Regions from separate parts of the Homo sapiens genome. Here region 1 is linked to region 2. The links come from fine-mapping of genetic effects on gene expression. Tissue or cell type: testis. Region 2 holds a variant in brackets; the other region holds the start of a gene. All regions are shown on one strand. Distances are between the middles of the regions. Region 1 holds the start of MTNR1B (melatonin receptor 1B). Region 2 holds the start of LINC02746 (long intergenic non-protein coding RNA 2746).

The links. PIP is the estimated chance that this variant, and not a neighbour inherited with it, causes the effect. A credible set is the group of variants that fine-mapping cannot tell apart.
Region 1: it holds the start of MTNR1B, and the variant in region 2 is the best candidate, but not a certain one, in a credible set for the expression of MTNR1B in testis (GTEx, PIP 0.67).

What each region holds. Positions count from the first base shown.
Region 1 is chr11:92,968,245-92,971,154 of GRCh38, reverse strand. MTNR1B (melatonin receptor 1B) reads right to left here and starts at 1,504. Exons shown (of 2, transcript NM_005959.5): 1 at 1,207-1,504. The coding sequence starts at 1,429. It overlaps LOC124902733 (a long non-coding RNA gene), which reads right to left. Exons shown (of 2, transcript XR_007062838.1): 2 at 2,240-2,910. RefSeq lists an enhancer at 457-956.
Region 2 is chr11:92,914,064-92,916,973 of GRCh38, reverse strand. It overlaps LINC02746 (long intergenic non-protein coding RNA 2746), which reads left to right and starts at 1,346. Exons shown (of 3, transcript NR_135091.1): 1 at 1,346-1,772; 2 at 1,853-1,951; 3 at 2,499-2,910. It also overlaps the pseudogene EEF1A1P49. The variant A/C (reference allele first, on the strand shown) is at 1,314.

The DNA of each region.
Region 1 (2,910 bases), 54 kb before region 2:
ATACTGTGTCTACCAAAAATATAAAAAATTACCTGGGTGTAGTGGCGAGCGCCTGTAATCCCAGCTACTCGGGAGGCTGAGGCAAGAGAATCCCTTGAACCTGGGAGGCAGAGGTTGCAGTGAGCCTAGACCATGCCACTGCACTCCAGCCTGGGTGACAGAGTGAGAGACTCCATCTCAAAAAAAAAAAATTTCTAGAGTCACAGGCCACACCAAATACATATTACTATTTGCTAAAAATGGTCTGACTCCTTAGAAAAGCATTTTTAAGCTATATGGTTGTTTTACTGCTGCTATCTTTCCATTTTAATTCACTCTAATATTTGAATTTGCTCCCAAGGCCCAACTTGAAGAAACTGCAAAATTAACAAACAGGTGACTGAGCTCCTTCCTAAGCTGAAGTGGTCATCATGCCCCATGACCTGTGAGGGCTAGAGTTCAGATACTGCCCCCCACTCTGGTTTTGTTTCTTTGAAGACCTGACTAGGGGAATATTGAAATGAGAGTGGATTGAAATAGGAAAAATATTTTCAGGATTACAACACGATTTAGCCAAATCATTGCTTTAATTTTCACAGTTAATCCCAGGAATTCCCAGTCTTCGGAAAAGACCACAATATTTCAAAGCAATTTAGTTCAGTCCAAGCAGAATCTGCAATTTCTGCATTTACTCTCCGTCAACTGGAATTGGGTCTTCAGATGACCTGGAGATAAGTTTTTGACACAAAACCTACTGAAATGCTTCCATTGATTAACTCATTTTTTCAGCAAGGATTTTCTAAGCGACTACTACATAAAGCTACAGTGCTTGGCAAGGAAGGAAGTGGGATGTCAAGTACAGGTGGTGAGATTTCTGTGGCCTGATGTGGGCACCTCTGGAAAGACACGCATTGGAGCGCGACGGGGTAGCGATGGCATCCAGCAGCGTGGGTTCCCACAGCGCCGGCGCCCGGCCAAAAAGCGCGCCAGTAAAACTTTCCGCAATTCCCTCTGTGCCAAGCGCGTCCTGGGCAGCCGCACTTCGGAGGGGCAAAACTCACCCTAACTTTTGAGTGCAGAGTCAAACTTAAGGAATAGGTTAGAGTGAAGGGAAAGGGGAGCCCGGGCTGAGGAGGGAAAAGGCAGCGCATATCCCGGGGTCAGGGACAAGATCAGAAGACAAGGAAGGGCCCGATGCCAGCACCCAGCATCAGGAATGGTGCTCACCTGCGTTCCGGAGCTTGCGGTTCCTGAGCACGGAGAGGATCACCAGGAGGTTGCCCACGACGTCCACGGCGGTGGTGACGATGAGCACCGCGGACAGCGCTGGAGCCACCCAGGGAGGTCGAGGGGTCCTGGAGGGCCGCGCGCTGCCAGCCCCCGACCAGCCCGGGCGCACTGCCCACCCGCCCGCCTCGCAGCAGTTGGCGAAGGAGCCGTTCTCTGACATCGCAGACTCTCCCGCGCTGTGCTTTGGCCACCGCGCGGCCCCGGACAGCCGCAGGGCGCGCGCAGTACTGAGCCGGGCGCTCTCTTCCCTGCCCAGCTCGCGTGTGCAAGGGAGGAGGCCAGTGGGGAGGGGTCTGGAGGAGATAACTAATTAAGCGTGGGCAGGGGATGGAGAAAAATATAGGAATGGGAGGAGGACTTGGGGTGCAGCCGTTGTAGAAGGGAGTGCGTCCCTCAGCGGTGCGCTCAGGAACAGCTGGGACCGCACAGCTGTCTCTGCCACCCCGAGCCCAGCAGGTGCCTGGCCCACCTCAGGCTGCGGAGCGCGTCTAGCTTCTGTCCCTGAGTATATAGCCACACCCGAGACCCCGATTTCCTCCACAGCGTCCCCAAGAGAAGCTGTGTCTAGGTAGGGACGTCCAACCCAGGTTGATAGACTGGAGAAGGTGCTGATGGTAGGGACCTCCCATCAGTTGTCAAGAAAGGCAAGGTTTGACGTCCCATAGGGCTGTGCAGCCCGAAAGAGAATGCAACTCCTAAGATGTGGGGACAGAGCCCAGAACAAAGTAGGGTAGACTGTTATATTCTAGGGAGCTGCAGAAAAATACGAACCTAGCCATTTTCCAAGCACTCGCTGGGTATTGTGGGGGGCATTGATGATGTCTCTACTGGGTCCTCTTTATAAAGCCAATACTTTAACATATTTACCAACATATATTTACACATAATACTTAAATAGATGTATGGCCAATATTGGGGGTTATGATGTGGTTTTTGGAGGGGTTAGGACAAGAAGAAGATTGAGGCATGATTACAATAAAGAAGGAACTCAGGTGCCCTTTATTAAAAATGTTTGAGTCGTGATCTGGTGATAATAATAATAGATAACTTCTAATGGGGGCTAATCTTATGACCCCAAAGCACTTTTCACACCCATTAGAATCACTAAAATCAAAATGACTGATTATCCTATATTTGTGGAGGAAGTTAAGCAACCAGAACCCTCATACACTGCTTTTATGAGAATGCAAAATGGTATAGCCACTTTGAAGAGCTGTCTGTTAGCTCCTAATAAAGTTAAATATACACCTATTCTATGACCAGAAGTTCCAAATGAAAAGGAAAGTATATTTCCACCAAAAGACCTGTACAAGAATGTCCAGAGCAGCCTTGTTTATAGGAGCTCAAATCTGGTAACACCTGCAATTTCCACCAACAGAAGAATGGATAAGCAAATTATGGTATGACCTTGCAATGGAATACTACTCAGCAATAAAGATGATTGACCTACACAACAGCATGGATTAATCACAAATATGTTGTATTGAACAAAAGAAGCCAGATACCAAAAAATATATACCATATTATTCCAGTTATAGGAAGTCCAAAATCAGGGAAAATTAATCTATTTTCTAATAGAAATCAGAAAAGTGGTTACATTTGAGGGTGGGTATTGAGAAACAAACACCAAAAAATTTCTGG
Region 2 (2,910 bases):
TGCATTATGATCCTCCCTTTTCCCCTCACCTCTTTAGCCAATACTTTCTCCCACCATTTCCTGCCCTCCAGGCAAAAAGAGCACAGGACTCCACCTCCGATTCTTCTGCCTGGCAAGCACCTCCTCCCATGTGGGCCCTGAGGTGCTGTCTCATCTTGAAGACCAGATACAGCTTCTCCTCTCTGAAGGTGTCCTCACCTCCCCATACACATGGGAATCTCCCCAGTGTGCCCCCTTTGCAGCCCTCGTTCATTACACGGAAATAGCTCCTTTGTAGTCATCTGTTTCCCCTACCAGAGTGGGAGCCCCCTCAAAGACAGGCGCTGTGTCACTCATATTTGCATCCACAGTTCCCAGGGCAGAGCCAAGCAGTGGTTGCATTCTTCACATGGAATCCTACATTGTTAACCACAGGGCTTCCGCCAGGACCTCATGGTGCATCTCCACAGATTTAACCTTAGTGGTGACATTGCTGGGGGCAAATGTGACCACTATCCCGAATTTGAAAAAGCCACCCTCCACACGGCCCACTGGCACACTGCCAATGCCTGTTCAACCCAGGAAGGGAAGTCAGTCCCAGACACACCCAGTGAGAACTGGCTTCCTGGGAGGCCCCTTGGCTTTTGAGTTCAAGGACAAAGGACCACCTGTGGAATTGGTAGAAAGCACTAGATGGATCTCTGACTGTTTAAAACTGTGTAGTGGATAGCTTGGAAATGCTAGGTGCTTTTCCACTTTATCCTTGCTCAGGGAAGAGGTGGAGTCAGGATTTGAACCCTGGCAATCATACACCTGTGGACTCCCTCGGGGATTCAATTAAGGATCAACTCCAGAATCCCTAACAGAGTAGTCTACCCTCAGCTCCACTCAGGCCTGGGTCACCTCCCATCTTGTACACATCTTGCAGGGGCAGCCTCAGGGGATTGTCGACCCTGCGCGTTGTTGGGAGGATGGAGTTCAAAGCTTCCAGCAGAGTCACCCCCATGGCGTTCCCCTCCTTCCACTCTACCTTCCAGCACTTGAACCAGGGCATCTTCGGGATGTCGAGGGGAGGTGAGTCCGGGGTGTGGTCCGCTCGCCTCCACCCCGGCTGTCCCTGCCGACCCGCGCCACACTCGCGTCAGTGCTGGGCTCCAGCATGCTGTCGCCGTGCCAGCTCGAGATGGACTGAAGGCCAGGCAGCCAGTTGTAGCCGATCTTCTTGATGCAGGCGCTTACTTCCTTGGTGATCACCTGGAGGCGCGAGCCGCTGTAGGCGGGCTCGGTGGAGTCAATTTCGTTGAAGATCACGATGAGCTGCGTGACGTCCCGCC[A/C]GTTGGCCAGCAGCGCGAGCTCGTGGGTCTGCGGGTTCTTGAAGATGCCGGCCTCCGCCCAGCCGCCTGCCACGAAGAGCACCGCGCAGTCGGCCTGCACCGCGGGGATACACAAACACACCGGGTTGCGGGAGGGGGCATCGGACTGACTTTGGGAGGTTCCGAATCCCATTGTAAAGCTGGGGAATGCCCTCCAGAACTCAGATGGCCAAATGGGATTCATGGACCACCCTAGATGCGGTGCATGGGGGTCCTGCTTCCCAGTTCCTCTCATTTAATCTCATCTAAATCAGCTTTTAGTCCCTTCTTTCTGGACCAACTGATCTACTAGTCTGAGTGTAAGAAAACCTGGTCCCTCTAGGCCCCCCCAGGACAACAGGATCTGAGCTTCATGAGAGTGATGGGACTTTCAGTCCTGTCCTCCCTAATTCTTTCAGGATTGATGGATGATGGCCATAGGTGAGGAAAAGGCTTACAAGCCTTATGATACCTTCCTTCTCCAAGCTTCAGAAATAAATCTTGAGTTTCCCCCTCTATAGGAATGTTTCTGAAGGCATGGACTGCTTTACCTGGGAAGTGCCCCTGATCATGGTCATGATGAAGTCTCTGTGGCCTGGAGCATCGATGATAATGCTGTAGTATGTGCTAGTCTTGAACTTCCACAGGGAGATATCAATGGTGATCCTGCGTTCTCTTTCTGCCCTCAGCTTGTCCAACACCCAGGCATACTTGAAGGAGCCCTCGCCCACCTGGGAAGGGGTGGGAGAATAAATGCACTGATGGACAGCAGATAAATCTACCTCAAACAGCAGCATTTTAGGCTTGCAGAGTGCATGGTTTTCTGTACTCTGTAGCTAGAACTACCCACAAGAAAGAGGCTTCCCCTCCACACACTTCCAGACACAGAGGGAGCCTTACCTCTGCCGGCTCCTTTTCAAACTTCTCAATGATTCTCTTGTCAATGCCCTCACATTTGTGAGAGGCCCAGTGGTGGTGGACTTGCCAGAGTCCACATGGCCAATGATGATGATATTGATAAAGGCCTTCTCTTTGCTCATGGCAGTAGGTTTACTAGAATAACTGCTGGTCAAGACAGCCAGGTGGTGAGACTAGATTATTCCAGGCCTGTCTTCTTCTATTCCCTCTTACTGAATAATTAATTTATGTTTTTTATCTTATTTTCAGATCCTTTTCCTTCCCGTCTCCACATGTCCAGAAGTTTGGTCCCCATAAAATTACAGTGGGCTGGGCACAGTTGCTCACGCCTGTAATCTCAGCACTTTGGGAGCCTGAAGCAGGAGGATCACTTGAACTTAGGAAAAGAAGGCCAGCCTGGGCAATATGATTTAACCCATCTCTACAAAAAATTAAAAATAGAGAAAAGAAAAATTAGCCAGGCACAGTAGTGTGCACCTGAGGGGGCTGAAGTGGGAGAATCACTTGAGCCTGGGAAGCAGAGGTTGCAGTGTGCCAAGATCACATGACTGCACTCCATTCTGGGTGACAGAGTGAAACACTGTATCAAAAAAGTAAAAAAAAAAAAAAAAAAAAAAAAAAAAGGGGGTTCTGCTTAATTCTGCAAGATTTGGGCAAAAAA